Linked DNA regions of Homo sapiens. The protein of the gene in region 1 interacts with the protein of each later gene in a biochemical or structural test. Each region holds a gene or a part of one and is shown in the gene's direction. Other genes may lie near its edges.

The links.
Region 2: the proteins of HEY2 (region 1) and HAND1 form a complex in vitro, tested with the Homo sapiens proteins (one study listed by BioGRID).

What each region holds. Positions count from the first base shown.
Region 1 is NC_000006.12:125,750,757-125,759,631, forward strand, and holds part of HEY2 (hairy/enhancer-of-split related with YRPW motif protein 2), read left to right. Parts: exon of another isoform or gene 1-770; intron 771-1,044; coding exon 1,045-1,123; intron 1,124-1,250; coding exon 1,251-1,334; intron 1,335-3,708; coding exon 3,709-3,790; intron 3,791-8,360; coding exon 8,361-8,875. UniProt on the Homo sapiens protein: Downstream effector of Notch signaling which may be required for cardiovascular development. Transcriptional repressor which binds preferentially to the canonical E box sequence 5'-CACGTG-3'.
Region 2 is NC_000005.10:154,475,228-154,484,889, reverse strand, and holds the start of HAND1 (heart- and neural crest derivatives-expressed protein 1), read left to right. Parts: upstream 1-6,662; 5' UTR 6,663-6,881; coding exon 6,882-7,424; intron 7,425-8,979; coding exon 8,980-9,084; 3' UTR 9,085-9,662. UniProt on the Homo sapiens protein: Transcription factor that plays an essential role in both trophoblast giant cell differentiation and in cardiac morphogenesis. Binds the DNA sequence 5'-NRTCTG-3' (non-canonical E-box). Acts as a transcriptional repressor of SOX15.

The sequences.
Region 1 (8,875 bases):
GGTCTGAAAAACAGAAGCTATCACGTGAAAGGTGAAACCCGTAAAGAAGGGGTGAAAATGAGGGGGACAGGTAATTCAGAAATAAGATCCAGAAGTGAGAAGGTGAGGTAATAGCAACCTGGTGTGTGCAGCATTTCTAAAATGAAAGAGAACAAATAACAGGAACCTGGGGAATTTGAGAACACAAAGAAGCATAGTATCCATGAATTATGAAGAGAAACAGATACAAACTAGAAAGGATTGTAAAAATTATGTGACCAAATAATACTTTGATTGAACCTTCAATATAAAAATATATTTTCATTAGTAAATCCAAGGTGCATTGCAGCTTCTGGAGATTTAAGCTTAGCCTAAAGTCTGAGACACACCTACAGTTTCATTTTCAAAGTAAAACATTCACCTAGTAATAAAATGAGTTTTAATTTTCCTATCAGTGGCATATTTAGGGCATATTTTTGGAAGATTAGTATGCAAAACATCAAGTTTGTCAATTTTTTCCTGTTGCAATATATGACTAACTGAAGTTTTGAAACAGTAAGATAACTTCTATTTATTTTAAAGTTTGCACCTAGAGACAAGAGTTTGACGTATGACGACTGCACATCTGTTTGATAGTGGTGCTTAACATAACCCTGATTTGAAAAAGTGGCATTATTTTGTTCAGTGTGCCTGACAGGAGGGAGAAGGAAAGCTATTTGAGATTAGTTGACTTTAAAATATATGAGTGGAACTAGGAAATGCTAATATCTAACTTCTCAGCCCAACTGCCGGTAATTATTTCACTGGGAGACTTTCAAGTAAAAATTGTGGGACATTTTGGCCAATGGGTTAGCATCTGGATTACAAATTAAGGCGTAATTTTTACCTGAAAAGAGACAGCCGGGCTGAAAGCAAAGTCCGTTAAGAGTGAAACAAGAACTAAGAATAAAATAACACAGACTTGAACTGTGCAATCACTCTGAATATTTAATGGGTGCCACAAGTACCCAGAAGAAACTATTGTTATGTTAATGCAGCACCTGACATACTCTTCTTATTTCATAGGCAAAGTACTAGCTCTGTGATTAGATTGAATTCTCCAACAACAACATCTCAGATTATGGCAAGAAAGAAAAGGAGAGGGGTATGTGATTTTTCCCCCTTTTTATTTCATGTAACTTATACTATTGTGTAACAGTTACATTTTTTCATTTGAGTAATTTTATCATTTGTGAATTCATAAACTTTTGTTGTTTGCTTCTTTTGGATAGATTATAGAGAAAAGGCGTCGGGATCGGATAAATAACAGTTTATCTGAGTTGAGAAGACTTGTGCCAACTGCTTTTGAAAAACAAGTAAGCTATCCCCTCCCCAGAATCCCCCCACCCACCCCGCCACCCCCCAAAAAAAAGCTCAAACACAATCTGATTCGCTCATCTGGGAATGTGGGTTCTTGTTAAAGCTCATTAAAATAATAGTGTATGTGCCCTGATCTGGCACAGAGCAGCTATTTCAATAAAATGCTTTGTTGTGGCAAAACTATTAAAAACATAATCCATCATGAAGTTGAAAAACATTTCCATTCTTTAGCTTATTTTCCCCTTAAGGGTAACAGTGTTCATGCTTTCTCTGTTCTTTCTATGAATACCAGTAGTGGTTTTATTTAAAACTGTGCTGTATACCGTATCCTTCAAAAAAAAAAAAAAAACCATTTTTTTCTCAAAATTTTTTTAAAATGTAATATTTTTAATTAAAAAACAATCAGAGCCCAAGAAGTAACATCTCTAGCTCTATTTCCTAAATGATAATACCACTAAAATTTATTTACCAAGCCATTTGCTTTCATTTTTAATCCCTGGGTTGGTAGAATGCCATTTGATTTGGGTCATCTTTTTAGAAGTTTGGTAAAAATGAAGTTAATCATAAATGCCCCTTTTCATAGTTACCTATTCCTTTACAAAAAAAGAAAGAAAGAAAAAGATTTTGCACACTTAGAAAAGTAGAAAGCCAAATGTTTAAATCTTTTGTGGTTTTAGAAGTCATGGCTCTCCCCCTGCCGCAGTGGTTAATGACACAGATTTCTAAGAGTATCTTTCAAAGGATATGGCAGCATGTCCTTGTTGAAAATACTTTCAGTTTAATTCCAATAAGACAACAGTTGTTTGTTTATTCCATTTTGTTTGTTTACTTCATGAATCTGCAAACATTATAAAACAAGCCCTACAAAGTCCTTGGAAATTATCCAGAAAGTGCAGTTTCAATTATTAGTGACTTTACTGAATCTGCTTGTACCATTTTCATGGAAAAATTAAACGCTGACCAAATACAAAACATAATATGCTACTGATTATACATTTTTAAGACAAAAAGCACACCCAATCTATATGCAGAGACTGTGTTTGATAAACTAAAAATAATGTGGAAATTGTAGTTTTGATTAGTAGCATTTTCAGTGCCAAATAGGCTTCAAGTGAAAATGTCAGTAATCAATGATGTTTTTAAAATTTGGAAGTACTGAAATGTCTGCAGTTATGAGGCGAAGTCTGTTTGATTTTTTTTCTTGGTTTGTTAGATTTTTTTTTTCTTAAATGTTGACTTAAACCTTAAAAGCAAACATCAGTTGTTTGGCAGTTAGTTACCATAAACACAAGCTTTCCCATTTGCAGAGCTTGGCTACCAACCCAAGTGAGTTGGCCCTGTCACAATATGATTAGAAAAGTGTTCTTTAGAGCAGTTAAGTAACTCTGGCACTCTCACCGTACGTGGTGCTGATAATTTTTACAAAACAAGTAAAGCATAGGGACCTGAAATAAACCTTAGTGTCCTTAAAAAAGAAAAAAAAAGAGAACATATTGGTAATTATTTAGCTCTTCCAGGAAATGAGAAGCCACCCACAGTCCCCGAGACAGCTTGAAATGGCACATTTGTATTTCAATTGGTTACCAGAGGTTTCCTTATTCTGAAAGCAGGGACATAAAAATATATTTGCAAGACAATTTTATTAAGAACTATTTTAAAAGGTTCAAAAATCCTTAAGCATTTATGATGCTTCCTAGGTAAGCAGTAAATTATTGCTTCTTGTTTGTGAGCTTAGAAATTCACAGTGACACCTGCTGGTAATTATTGGGGAAAAAAACCTTAAAAGTCGTCCTTTTTAAAATTTTTGGATCTGCTTGAAATGCAGATCCAATTATATGGTTCTAGTGTGAATACCTTATTTCAGGACTTAGTAGGCCTGTGAAAGGACTTATTGGAGTTTTCTATTTTAAAAATATTTAACAATCAATTGCTAAAATCCTATCTCCTTATCTTCTGGAGTTGTTATGCAACTCCTCTAGACTTTGGCTTTATAGAAGACTATTGATGCCCCATAGTAAAACATATTATTAACCAAGACACAGATTGAATGCAAAGTTTGAGATTTTTACAACTGAAATCATTTTGCTGTGGTGATCTTAGGAGAATAATTATTCTTATGATTTAAAAAAGTCATTCTAGTTTCTTTTAGTCTTTAAAAGTTAAAATGGCAAATACTTGTCATTAGGTATGACATTAATTAGTGCTTTCATGTAAAGTTTGGAAAGAATTCGAAGTTTTCTGTGAAAAAATAAAAGTTGGGATTGTCTAGTGAGAGGGAAATTGAAGCCATAATGCTAAATTCAGTGTATAATGTTTCAGATTAGTTTCTGTAGGACATAGGATTATTTATTTATTTATTTATTTATGAAGGGATCTGCAAAGTTAGAAAAAGCTGAAATATTGCAAATGACAGTGGATCATTTGAAGATGCTTCAGGCAACAGGGGGTAAAGGTAAGTAGATGACTTCATTTTTTTTTTTTTTTGCCTTTTTTACCTTTCTCTTTTCATGTTATTCCCCCTAATATTGTAAGGAAGTCATAGCTGAACAGTTCTTTAACAAGCTGAGATAGGAGGCCCCAGATTAAAGCCATGGAAATCAATGCTAATGGCAGGATTGAACTCGTGGGAAAGAACTTTTGGAACAAAAGAAGCACTTGACCCTGGGCTTGTGTTTGCTTTCATAATACTGTGGGAGTAAAGCTTCATTCACAGCAGCCTGGTCAGAGATTTGTTTAGGACTTAAGAAGCGCATGCTGGAATCTGTACAGAAAGAACAAAAAACAAACACACAAACATCCAAACATAAACAGGAGGTTAGAGGTAATCCTTTTCTCCTCCTTCTGCTTCTTTCTTCCTACTCCTTCTCCTCCTCTGTCTTCATTAAATGAAGGCTAAGACTGAAAATAATTCAGCTATTCCAAAGGAATTGACTCTAGAGTTATTTTCATTATTGTTTTCAGATTTTTGCTTGGTCTTGAATTTAGACCAAACAGAACAGTTGAAGTGCAGGTAGGAAGTCTCTACACCAGAAGCCATTAATGGAGCAGAGTCATTCTTGGGGAAAGCAAACAGGAGCAGGCACTCCAGGTCCAGGGCCCTAGAGAGGTGTCCTCTGTACTGGATAGTGACTTAGGGAGTAATTGTCGAGGTGGTGAGAGAGGATCTCATCTCATGCTAAAAACAGCCTTGAGATCCTAGTTCACTCAGATTTCATTATCCCACTTACACATCACAACTCAGACTTGATTTTGTTCCTCTGAATCTTTTTCATCCTTCAAAGAATCCTTTGATATTCACCTTAGCCAAGGGTGTTATTCAGTATATTTAACAACTGAATAAGGAGAAGGTATCAGAAGGATTTAAGGGCTCCAACTAAATCCTGAAGGCCTCCCGGTGCTCAGCATTAACCTTTTACTACACTGTATACGGGTCCTAGATCAGGGCAGAGGCAGGACATTGGAGGGAAGCAACTGTTACCAATATTTAACTCCTGTATGGCCATACCATTGAGGATCTCTAGAACATCAGCCCTGATCTTAACCATCTTTTTCCTGCGTCTAGTAGGGAGGGAGGGTAACCATTGTACAGAGAAGCCCCAATGGGTTGACTTTTCCCAGATTGTACCTTCTCAAGGAACCATCCTGAATGATGGCATGAAATGCAAACATTCTTACATAATAGAAAAGATAACTGGATTAAATCACAGAAGCCAATGATCCAGCCTAGCTTGACCACTGCTGTGCCTCTGACCTAAGAAAAAAGTCTGGGCTGCACTTTGAGGGCTACACTAGCAGCATGAGCGCCAAGGGCCCCTGCAGCTCCATGATTCTGTCTCTACAACTGCTACCTCAGGATGTTAGGATACTGATTGAATTAGTCATGCTACAAGAAAATTTGTTTGATTGCTTTACTTCCCTTAGCATTGTTAGCCACAAGGCTAAGTTTTCTCATTAGGGTTTCAAATATTTGGCATGAGCTGTACTTCTAAAGAGTAATATTGTTCTTAGGCTTTATTATAAAAACTAAGTTCCATCTTGGTTGCTATTCTTGGCCACCTAGACAGTCCTAAAATTTGTCCCAGAATAGTTTGTGAACAGATATTTCCAAGTAGGCTCCATACACGTCACCTGACTGTCAGGCCATTGAAGAGGTCATTGCACTGGAGAATGGCCTTCAAGAAGGGAGCTGGCGGCTGGGTGTGGTGGCTCATGCCTGTAATCCCAGCACTTTGGGAGGCCGAGGTGGGCGGATCACCTGAGGTCCAGAGTTTCAGACCAGCCTGACCAACATGGAGAAATCCCGTTTCTACTAAAAATACAAAATTAGCTGGGCATGGTGGTGCATGCCTGTAATCCCAGCTACTCAGGAGGCTGAGGCAGGAGAATTGCTTGAACCCGGGAGGCAGAGGTTGTGGTGAGCCGAGATCGCGCCATTGCACTCCAGCCTGGGCAATAAGAGTGAAACTCCATCTCAAAAAAAATAGAAAAAATAAAAAGAAGGGAGCTGGCTGTTTGGGTTAACATTGTAAAAGAATACCAACTGCCTCATAGTGCAGTGGTGAAGGGCATCGTATCTGTAGCTGGATTGCCTGATTTCAAATCCTGGTTCTGCCACTGATTAGCTCTGTGACTTTGGGCAAATTACCCCCTGCGAGCTGGTCCAGTTTTATCATCTGTAAAAAGAGGACAGTTGTAGTGTCCATACTATATAACTCATAAGGCTGTTACAAGTTAATTCACTTAAGGCCGATAGAATAGTGCTGGTGTAGAGGGAGTGGTATGGACATGTATGTTACTGTTGGCCCAAGATCCATTCACAAAAGGGAGCTACTTATCATCATTTCCCTCTGAAGTCCACAATAGGATAGGAATTGCATAATTTATATTCCTTTAAGATATAACAGAGAGCTCAGCCATATATGACAACATAGCAGGCAAACCACAAATTTCAATTACTTCATGACCAGTAATGAAAATTCTTAGAAGCTCTTGGGGCTCCAATTCTGTTAGTTCATTCTTTATAGTCTGTCTTGGTATGACAATAGTATCTAGAGAGGATTTAGTAGAATAACCTAAGTTTCGAAATCCCTCTGGATTTCTGGACTCTGTCTATTCTATTCATTACCCCCGTCTTTCTCTCATGGGAGTCAGAAGTCTGCAAAGCCCTACAGAACCCTGAGGACCAAAATGTGAAATCTTTCCATGAATACCTCTTCTTCAGGAATAGCTTTTCATCCTAATCCAAGAGGCTCTGTTTGTTAACTATGTCAGAGTCCTGGGATGATAACTGTTTTTGCTGCTGATCTTCCGTATTTCATGATATTCTCTTGGTATCAGCTTTGTACTGCTGTTGTTTCTGTTTTAGTAGTGTATATATTTGCCACAAATATCTTTTGGGAACTTCCAAATCGTTGGAATTTTAGCTTTAGGACTCTTAATATATGTGACTACTATCTCCAAAGTTCTTTGATTACAGATTAAGATAGCCAAATTTTTAATAGGTGATGAATAAACAGGTAATGCTTTGATCAGCAAAAACATAGATAATGTAAATGTTTTAGATAAAAATAACTGCTGGGTGTGGTGGCTCACGCCTGTAATCCCAGCACTTTGGGAAGCCGAGGCAGGAGAATGGCTTGAGTTCAGGAGGTCTAGACCAGTCTGAGCAACATAGCGAGATCTTGTCTGTACTAAAAATCACACAGATTAGCCAAGTGTGGTGGCACATGCCTATAGTCCCAGCTACTCAGGAGGCTGAGGCAGGAAGATCACTTAACCCCAGGAGATGGAGCCTGCAGTGAGCTGTGATTGGGCCACTGCACTCCAGCCTGGGTGACAGAGTGAAATCCTGTCTCAAAGATAAATAAATTAATAAATAACCTTATTTGAATGTGATATTTCTTATTCATGTATATACACATCCCCAAAATGAATAGACCAAACTTTTGATTTGGAAATTACTTTTTAAAAAGTTGTAAATGAAAAATAATCTGTTTTTATATACCAGACGTCACTCATTCAAAGTGGGCAACATTTCTCCATATGTCTGATTATTATTGTGCCCTACATGCCCTACATGGGCACTCCAATAATTAGACATTATTATTTTCTATTCTAATGTATTATCTTCAGACAGAGACTCAGATAAATGTGACCAAGCTCTAGCCATTTTTATGGTAGTAACCATAGGTATAGGAGTGCATGCATATACACTGACAAAATTAATATACATTTTTTTTCTTGGGTGTATGCTAGAAAAATGTAAGGACATATATTTGAACTTCAGATAAACTAGGCGTTGACATATAGTATTTTCATATCAGGAACTTAGCCTTATATTACTGACAGAAATATAAGATCTTCAAGTAAGAAACCAAATTTTTTTTAAAAACTCATTTTGTTTTCATTAAATTTTTTATACAAAGTTATGACAAGATGGTTTCACTTTGTTGATAAAAAACATTGTTAGTCAAGAAGCAGTTATGAATTTATTGCGATTCTAGCACATTTCTAAAGTCCTCAAGCTGCTAAGATGCACTTGGCATCTCTGTTAAAATGCCAAGAGAGTAAAGATGTTTCAGATAAGCCCTTTAATCTCCAACTCATGTGACAGAGACAGAGAGACTGGAACTCTGTATTTCCATGAAAAAGTTTCCTGGAGAATTTCACTATCCCACAATACAAAGGGAGAGACCCCATTTCTTTCTCTGGAAGTGTTTGAAACGCGGATGTTCTTAATTTTTTTCCCCACTGTGATATTTAGCTGCAAGAACAACTGTAGCATATTGCATTGCCAGAGTTGTCACACATGTGAGTGGCAAAGTATACTTTCTTAACTTCTGCAAAAAATTAAAACCATAAATAGCTGGCAATATTTCCAGAAAGGATTATCGTTCCACTTCAGTCTTCTGAAGGACAGAGTGGAACATCAGTGGGTGGTTATTGTTGACTATACCATTTTCTCACCCCTACCTCCCGCCCATCTCTCTCCTGTTCCCTACTTTGCTCAAACCCACTTTTAGGCTACTTTGACGCACACGCTCTTGCCATGGACTTCATGAGCATAGGATTCCGAGAGTGCCTAACAGAAGTTGCGCGGTACCTGAGCTCCGTGGAAGGCCTGGACTCCTCGGATCCGCTGCGGGTGCGGCTTGTGTCTCATCTCAGCACTTGCGCCACCCAGCGGGAGGCGGCGGCCATGACATCCTCCATGGCCCACCACCATCATCCGCTCCACCCGCATCACTGGGCCGCCGCCTTCCACCACCTGCCCGCAGCCCTGCTCCAGCCCAACGGCCTCCATGCCTCAGAGTCAACCCCTTGTCGCCTCTCCACAACTTCAGAAGTGCCTCCTGCCCACGGCTCTGCTCTCCTCACGGCCACGTTTGCCCATGCGGATTCAGCCCTCCGAATGCCATCCACGGGCAGCGTCGCCCCCTGCGTGCCACCTCTCTCCACCTCTCTCTTGTCCCTCTCTGCCACCGTCCACGCCGCAGCCGCAGCAGCCACCGCGGCTGCACACAGCTTCCCTCTGTCC
Region 2 (9,662 bases), on another chromosome or scaffold:
CTTTTGGAGAAAAGAGCACAGAAGTTTTGAATGAATCTCCAGACCCTGTCCCTGAGATAGCAAGGCTTAGATGGACAAGCCTGGAGTGGACAGCTTGCATTGTGCCCCATGGGGACTCTGCCAGAGAAGCGCATGATCCTTAAGACAGAGATATGGCTCAGTCCTGTATTCCAGGAGAAAGTAGACTCAATGTTTGCTCATGAAATGTCCCTGCGTCCAGCTCTGCTGGTCGTGTCCCTGGCGAAGACTCCCCACCTATGTAGCCAGCAGCATCTGTCCTTGGATACACCATCCCGGCTCTAGCTTTTCCCCAGTAATCAGCTGGCTTTCGCTGGCAGGAGGACCCAGGAGATAGGTAAAGTGGGTTGATTCAGTCCTTGCTGTGGAATTCAGATTAGACTGGGAAAGGAAAAAATTCTCCTGACCAGGGATGCAACAGTCAGGCAGTGAGAATGACCTTCGTGACAATGAGCCGAGATAAGCCTCTTGGCATGAAACAGCTCGGCAGGCAATGATCAGTGGTCTAGGGATTGGCTACAAGTGGCCCGACCCGACCCGGGGAGCAACCGAGCACCAGGAAACTAACCAGCATGTGAGGAACAAAAAAAATCTCCCAATATGCCGAAAACAGCCTGGTGCACAGCAAAACTTCGTTAACAGGCGGCCTGGAGCTGAGTGCTGTGAAGCTGACCAGAATGAAATTGCCCTGAAAGCAACGGGACTGGGTAAAAGAAACCGGAGTAAAATCCACCTGCCTGCTAGTGTGCAACTAACCACTGCGAGGGATGGGAGAAGGGAGGGTCTCGGAGGGCCGCAGGGTGGACCGGGAGGAGACAGGACTCCTGGTGTTCTGGAGAACCTGACCGAGCTGCTTCGGGGATGGGGGAGGGAGGTGTCCAGTGCCTTTTGATTTACAATCGCTGCGCCCCAAGCGATCCCATAAATTTGGGGGCCGTTTTCACCAAAACCGTGAGTTACGATTTTTCAAATAAATACATTTTCCAATCAGACCGGGTTCTGTTTAGGTTGAACGCGTCCCGAAGCAGACATCTCTCTGTGCGGAAAATACACAGAGGAGGAAACGGAGCCGGGACGAAGCTCAGACGACATAAAAACTTATGTAAACACATTGTCATTTACGGGCTTCGGAAGAGAAAGAGAATGAGGGGAGGAAGACAGAAAAAGTTGGGGGAAACACATACATGTTTAATTCTCCCTCGAATCCTCAGGTCCTAGCCCAGAGGGAGGTTAGAAAATGTAATATTCTTTTTCCATAAGCTTGATTTATGTTACTCATTGGACAATAGGCAGCAGCAGGTTTACCTTAAATAGATTTTGTATTTTTGAGGCCTGTTACAGGCCTGAGAATGAGCACAAATGACCCCCCCCCCTCGTACACACACACAGCCACACACATATATGCATAGGCACTCTCTCCTAGTTTTTCTTTAAGAAAGAGCGTGGAGGAGATAAACCAAAATGAATTATTTTAGCAGGGGAGGGTCGTCGATTTCTATCTGTGTGCCCTTGGGCAAGTCTCTCCCCATCCTCTGGGCCTGTGTTTTGCCCGTAATCAGGGGCTACCGTTGCGCAGAAAAGCATTGACACATAATTCTGTGCACAATGGCAAGAACCTCCTGGCCAAAATGTAAAGAACGTCACTTCCTGCTTGGACCCTTTCTGGCCTGACCACCCTCGTCTCAGGAAAGAAGGTAATAAGGGGAGACAGAGGCTGCTGTTCACCCCAGGTCCCCTCTGGAGATCTGGGCTTTAGCCGCGCGTCTGCCACTCATCGGCCGTGTGCCCTTAGGAAAGTTCCTTCCCCTCTCTGGGCTAGTTTCCCGTCTGCAAACAGAACCTTGGAGCTCCCAGGAGCAATCTACTCCGTGCCTATCTCTTCCCTGCCCCGACTGTCCCCCATCCCTGGGAGCAGGCTGGGCCAGATTGGAAAGTCCTAGGTCCTCTTCAGACATGGCAGAGAAATGTTTAAGGGATTTGCGCGCTCAAGCTGCGGGGTAAATGGTCCGCGGGCTGATTTATGGCGCGTTACTGCGCGACGCGATTCCCCAAGACAGCGAGAATATTTTACACCGCGCTAATATAAACAGGCGGCCGGCCGGGTCCTTTTTATGGAGTTCCTGTAATTACCCGGGCCCTGACAGGTCCTTGATTTACTGCCCTATTTAGATAAGGGGTCCGGTGCGGGGATTGCCCGTGGCGTCAAGGTCACGGGACTGCGGCGGGAGAAGGTTTTGCGGTAGGCGCCGCGGCCTGGGCTTCCAGAGGCCTGCCAGTCCGGGGGGCGCGGATAGGGGTGAGGGTAGGAGAGGGGCTAGGGCAAGAGCGAGACCCCACCACTGCAGAACGTCCAGGCTTGAGGGACCTTCGCATTGCCCGGGTACAGCTGTCCTACTGTTATGGTTGGGGGAACTGAGTCCCGTAGGTGACAAGACTGCACCCCCCACCAAGTCATTTAGGGAGGGACATGGGGGTGGAGGGTGGAATCTGGAACTGGAATTCGGGTCTCTGGCAACATAATTCCTACACCTGGCGATGTCTCTGTATCTCCAGTCTTATGATGGCTGGGTTGTGTAGGGTCAGTAGGGAATGGGAAGGAACCTAAGGCAGTCAGAAGCAGCTAGGTCAGGTCAGAACAGAGCCCTGCAAGGAGGATTCAGTGTCCTGGTCCTTCTCCCCATCCAGAGCTTTGTAGTCATGTGGCGGCATGTAATTCCATTTCCGCCCCTATGAAATTAATATTCCTAAAAACAGAGCCACCATTTATCCAGGTTTACTGTCACTGTGCTAAGAGCCTCGCCTTGTGCTTACTCTTACGCCAGCCCTCCACAGAGGTTATTATTGTCCTCCAATTTACAGAAGAGAAAACTGAGGTGTAGAAGCTTCACACAGGGAGGAATGATGTGCACAGTTTTAACTCAGATGGGCCCGATTCCATAGCAAGGTGGAATGTGTTTTATGTGCATAAGCCCTCTACTTTGTAAAACAGGGTAAAGAAGAGTTCCTGCCGGGTCTCACCACTACAACTGGGGGAAGAAACGAGAAGCCTGCATTTGAAAATACTAAGAAGGCCAACCCCCCTGAAGGCACTCTTTAGGTGAGCAAGGTTCGTTAAGAGGAGGCTGCAGGGGCAGTGTGGGCTAGGACCCTGGGAGTTCTAGTCCTTGGTCTGTTGAGGTAGGCAAGAGGAAAGCGGAGTCCTTCTGTAGGGATCCCTGAGCTGAGCACTAAGTCCCAGGAGGAACCAGGGCAGGGTCCCTGCAATAGTGAGGAGCTGGGAATTCCAGAATTCCAGACTATCAATCCTATTCCCTTCTTCTGCAACTGGGGAAACTGAGGCTCGGACTGGAAAGGAACAAAGAGGTGCTAGATAGGGAAAGCCAGGACTCTTGCCTGTCACATCTCTTGCCTGCCAGCCTAAAGCAATTTTAGCCAAAATCCTAGGTCTCAGACCTCCTCCTACAATATAGCTTGGGCAGAGATAGAGAACAACCTTACAAGGTCCCCACCATCCCGGGAGTTCTGCTGCTCTCCACGGACTACAGTAAAGCATTTTGGGGTCTCTGAGAAGGCAGTCTAGAGCCTAGTTGTACTGCAGTCTCCCCCGACGTCATCCTGCTGGGGGTTGCCCCAGCCCCAAGCCTCAGGAGATCCCTTAGGGCTGAGTTTCTGGTGGGGGCACCGCTTGAAAAATGACACTGAATACCTTCTCTAGGTTGGGGAACAGTGCTTTCCACATCACTGGCAGCTGGAGACACCCTGCTCTTTAAGACCCATGGGGGGCTGCCAGGTAGTCTCAGGGGCCCTCAAGGGGTGTCATAGGACTGGGACTCCTCACCCAGTACTGATAATGCATTCCCCACCACACTAACCAGGCCAGATATATGGGGGATGTATACAACCTTGAGTGATCTGTGTAACATCATAAAAGCAACTAGGACTCATATGGGCAGGCGCGTGGGCCACACATTTGTATGTGTGTTATGTGTGAGCATGTGAGAACCTCTATTTGTGAGCACCTGTGCATATGTAGTAGATATTGTGACTGTGTACTTGTGCACTGAAGGCTTAGCGGTGACACTGAGAATATACAAAATGTATGATGGGATTTTGGAAGTTTGTGTTGCGAATACAATTGTGGAGAATCTTAGGAAGATACAAGCTGGTTTAAATTGTGGCAATGAGATTATGTGTGAAACCCTGCATTTGTGTAGTATTCAGAATTTATGTGTTTCTACCATATGACTTTGGTCTCTGTGCATGCCTGAATGGAGGATTGGGAGCGGCTCCCAGGTGTAACACATCTGAAGCGTGATGAGTATGTACCCTGTGGGTGACAGAGAGACAATGTGTAAAATCCTAGGAATGCATGAATGCTGTGTGTACCGTGGCTGTGCGTATTACTGTGAGAATACACATACTTTTGGGCGTCTTATGAAGATACGGGCTTTTGTGTACGGCGGCAAGGTTTTGTGAGCCCTTGTGCATGTACCTGTGAATGTATAATCTGAGGGCCTAGTGTGCCGCTCTGAGAGGCACTGTTGCAGATTGTACTTGGATTAGGACAAAGACTGGGCGTGTGTTGAGGATTGTGTGTTGAGGTCCTTCTCTCCACAGCGTAATTACTCTCTACCTGCGCTCTTTCTAGAATGCCTCCAGGCCAGGGAGGCTTGGGACCCCGCAGAGCCGCCGCAGCAGCGGGCCCCCAGCGCTCCCTCCCCGCGTGCCTCCGGCTCCGCGCTCTGCCCTACCCCAGCGCTGCTGGCGCCAGGCGCCGGGGAGAGCGGGGGGTTTCCAGCCCGCCTCGGGCAGGAAACCAGGACCTCCCTGCACCACCCCCCCATGCACCTCCAGGGCCCACAGCCCTGCTGAGCTCCCACAGGTGGAACCAGCAGGCCCAGGCTTTTGTCTCCGTCACTCCTGTATGTAACCCCCCACCCTTCATTCACTCTCTTGTCCAGGAGTGGAATTCCACTCATCCACTCCCTACCGGACCTCGAGAAAATCGCTCTTCTTCTCTGGGCTTCACGTTCCATATCTGTTCAAGGAGAGAATGGGCCTTTCTCCCTCTGTCTTTGGACTAGTAACTATGATAGGCACATAGTAGGCATCAATAAATAATTGTTGAATGAATGGGTGAATGATTTGCCTTCTAAAAAGAGCACTCACATTAACTTCTCCTTTCCCCCTCCCCTCGACTTTGCTTTGAAGAGAGGCACACTCCCTCTACCACACCGAGGGAGGGGGCGTTGAGCTGAGAAAGGTTGAGAGAATGAGGGACCCAGGTAGGTGGACATCGGCCAAGAAAGGAACCACAGCGGGAGGTAAGACCGAGAGTCCCCAGCTTGAAGCGTCACCACTCCGGGATTCCCAGATTCCAACGCGAGCCTGGGGAAAGCCCACAGTGGAGAGAGTCCGGCTGGCAGGGAATGGCCCTACCCCCGGGGTGAAATCTCGGAGGGTCGTGCAGCCGAGTCGCGCCTCTGCGCTGATGCGTGAGAGATGCCGGACGTCGCGTTTGCCTGTGCGAGCCTCGCGGATGCTGTGCAGTCTTGGTCCCCTCTGCGTGTGTCTAACGCCGAATGCTGGTGTCTCGAGGTGTGAGCTTCGGGGCCGGTGTCTTTAAAGAACCAAAGATTCTTAAGGAGTGATGATCTGGGTAGAGCGGCCCGACGTAGCCGCGCTCCCAGGTCTCGGTGCGAGTCCTGCGGACAGACCAGAGGAGACCTGCTGGCCAGATGCCCCGGGCCCAAGGCGGACGCCAGACTGTCTCTGCGCCAGCCGGGCTGGCCTTCGGAATGGATCAGGCACCCGGGAGGCCGGAGTGGATCTCAGACCCTCAAGCCGGGAACAAACCCGTCGATGCCCGTGGGCCTGGAGTCCGCCTCCTCCTTCCCGCCCCACCCCTACCCCTGCCTCCGAAAGGCTTCTTCGCTGGTCAGTAGCTGCGTGCCCGTCTGCCTGAGGCTGGGTCAGAATTGGCGGGCTGGTAACGACCCCGTGCACAAGCGGCTCCCAGTCTCTCCAGAAAGGGCCGATGACTAAGGGGTGGGGGTGGGGGCGGAGGGCTGGAAGGTGTTAGGGAAGAACGTTAGCGGCCTATCCTGTCTTCAGCAGCGCCCTCTCATCTTCTAGCTCTGACGCCGAGCAGAGCAGTTGGAGCTCGGGACTGGGAACTGCTGGAATTCCTATTTAGACTTCTAGACAGTCTAGAAACAAGAACCTTTCTTTCCCTGGGCCTCAGTTTCCTTGTCTGTAAAATCAAAAGGCGGGCTCTAGGTGTAGGCCTTCTTTTCGCTTGGTGATTCTGGATTCCTTTCCTTGGATCCGTGGGGAGGGGGTGGCAGCAACAGTCCAGGGCGTTGGCCGTCCTGTGCCTCAAGTACGTAGTCCCCGTGCCCGCCCCCTCAACACCCCCAGCAGCCCGCCCCCCTAAGCCCGCAGAGCAGGGAGCTGAGTGGGAGGGGCAGAGGCGGGGCCGGTTCCCAGTCCCTGCTGGCGGACTAGAGTGGCGCGGGCTGAGCGTAAAACCTGGGATAGCCACTCCCCCTTTTCCTTATCCCCGCCCCCCTGCCATTGGCTCCCGGGAGAGGTTGACATCAAAGCCGCGGTCTTATATAAGCCAGATCCGCAGGGGAGTCCGCAGAAGGGTTAAACAGGTCTTTGGGCTTCGGCGACCTCGCCCGCGGCAGAAACCGGTAAGAAGACAGTGGGCTGCGCGTCTCATTTTCAGCCTTGCCCGGACTCTCCCAAAGCCGGCGCCCAGTAGTGGCTCCAGAGCCCACAGGTGGCCCCCGGCAGTCTCTGGGGCGCATGGAGCGGCGTTAATAGGGCTGGCGGCGCAGGCCAGTAGCCGCTCCAACATGAACCTCGTGGGCAGCTACGCACACCATCACCACCATCACCACCCGCACCCTGCGCACCCCATGCTCCACGAACCCTTCCTCTTCGGTCCGGCCTCGCGCTGTCATCAGGAAAGGCCCTACTTCCAGAGCTGGCTGCTGAGCCCGGCTGACGCTGCCCCGGACTTCCCTGCGGGCGGGCCGCCGCCCGCGGCCGCTGCAGCCGCCACCGCCTATGGTCCTGACGCCAGGCCTGGGCAGAGCCCCGGGCGGCTGGAGGCGCTTGGCGGCCGTCTTGGCCGGCGGAAAGGCTCAGGACCCAAGAAGGAGCGGAGACGCACTGAGAGCATTAACAGCGCATTCGCGGAGTTGCGCGAGTGCATCCCCAACGTGCCGGCCGACACCAAGCTCTCCAAGATCAAGACTCTGCGCCTAGCCACCAGCTACATCGCCTACCTGATGGACGTGCTGGCCAAGGATGCACAGTCTGGCGATCCCGAGGCCTTCAAGGCTGAACTCAAGAAGGCGGATGGCGGCCGTGAGAGCAAGCGGAAAAGGGAGCTGGTGAGTCCTGGGGCTTGCATGCTCCAGCCAAGGGTGCAGGAGCGGTGAGCAGCCTCAGGCCATGCAGGTAGTCGAAGGAGGCTGTGTTGTCCTGTGTCCGATTTGGAAAGGTTGGGAAGAGTTCTGAGATGGTTGGTCACAGCGTGCGATCCTGTGCATGGAGGGAGGCAGATTCGTCATAGAATTCATTTGTAATACGGGAGAGTGTTTGTAATACTGAGTGAATAATCTGTTTGGAGCCTCGGACCCTCCAAAAATGCACACACCACAGGTTTTGCTTCCAATTTGGAGAAGTCCTGATTCATTCCTGGGCTCTCCTGGAAGCCAGGTTAAGAATATGTGTTAAAGTTCTTTACTTTGAGTTTGAATTTATGTGCCCGGGCTCGGTTCCTGTTTTCAAAGGGCCTTTGCTGGACCGGCTAGTCTACTTCCATCATTGTATAAATAGGGAAACTGAGGGCCCAGAGTGGGTCGGGGCAGGAAAAGCACCTATCTGAGGAGTCCAGGGTGGAGGTGAGGTAAAACAGATCGGGTCTTCTACTCAGTCCAGGGCCAGTTCTGGTTCTCCCCATGGACTGGTTCTGAGGACGACTTCAGTGGCTTTGCATGTAAATAAGAGCCACTTCTTTTAGCTTTGGAGAGCGCAGTCTCGTCTTGGCCTTCTTGATCCTCTCCGGTTAGGGTGACACTTCCTGGCACTCGGTCTGGCTGTCCGGGGCTGGGGGCTTCTGAGCGCTGGGTTTTCAGGCTGGCCAATCAGTTTCTCTAGGTTGGGGGGCTTAAGGCCGTAGCGGAGTGGAGCCAGCTGAAGCGCCCCACCTGGTTTATCCAACCTGCGGGGGCCTGTGGTAAACTGACGAAAGCTCATCCAGGGACGAGGGAAAGATAAATAGGCATCGAGTCTCTAAACGGCTGCCCCGGACTGGGGATGGTGCAGGCCGGCTTCTTTCGAGGTGCGGCGCCTCGAAAGAAGTTGTTATTGGGCGGATCCCGGCCCCCACGCGTCGCCGCCTCCTTCAAGTAGCACCGCTTGGTTCCTGCTGAAAGAGCGGGAAGGAGGACGCTAGGCCAGCTCGACTCCCCGCTCTTTTACCTCCGTATCTGAGGCTCCCAGCTCCGGCTTAGGGGGCCCCAAGCCTGCATCCAAGCCCTGATGTTTAAACCAGGTTGGGAGGCTGGCGGAAGTGTGTGGGGTGCAGCGAGAGCGGGAGAACCGTGGATTTCCACCCCTCCCTTCCAATATCCTGGGATCTCCCTTAGGTGTCCTAAAGCCAAATCAACGCGCGTCAGTTTCACCAGACGCAGAACATTTTCCTTACCAAACCTCCCGAAGCTGCCCAGCCCATCCCGGGTCCCAGGAACTCCGCGCATAAAGGCAAATTTACGAGCCTGTTTGCCTATTTCGCAAACAGAAATCCGTCACTTATTTAAAGACTCCCAGTTACTGCTCCCGACACCTTCCCCTCCTCCTCATCTTACCCCATGCCGGGCGATCGGAGCAGAAAAATTAAAACCTGTCTCTCCCGCCTCTTTTCTTCTGTGTGTCCTTTGGCAGCAGCAGCACGAAGGTTTTCCTCCTGCCCTGGGCCCAGTCGAGAAGAGGATTAAAGGACGCACCGGCTGGCCGCAGCAAGTCTGGGCGCTGGAGTTAAACCAGTGAGCCGAGGCCCGCGCCGAGGACCTGGCCAGGCCAGCCACTCCTGAAGCCCCGGGAGGAGAGGAAGGCAGCGGCGAACGCCAGGCTCTGGGCTCCGGCGACTGGTGCTACGCATCCCGCGGAGCTTCTGCTGAGCGCCGGCAGGTCGTCGGCTGCAACCACACACTTGGATCGCACGTGCAATGTCCTTTGATTTTTTTTAATACATTAAGAGAAAGAGAAATATATATATATCCACCCCCAGCCCAACCGAGGGCGGCCCTTGGCGGCAACATGCAAGAAGGAGGGACTGTCGAACCCAAGGGCTCAAAGACGCACTCTTCCACCCTTTTGGAGCGAATTTAGAACCTCAGCCCTATCTCCATTTCCCTATCTGGCTCTTTCTCTCTTGTCCCTCCATATGATCCGCCCCGACGCCGTCTTCTCTAATTAAAATGCAATAAGGAATCAATTCTTTTCTGCCTGAGAAAGAGAACCAGACGCAGGAAGATGAAAGGCTGCCCTTTGTTCTTCGAATCGTGGTGGTTTTATTTTATTTTTCTTTTTGTCGCTGCACTTCCTGTTTAGTTCCAAGGGAAACA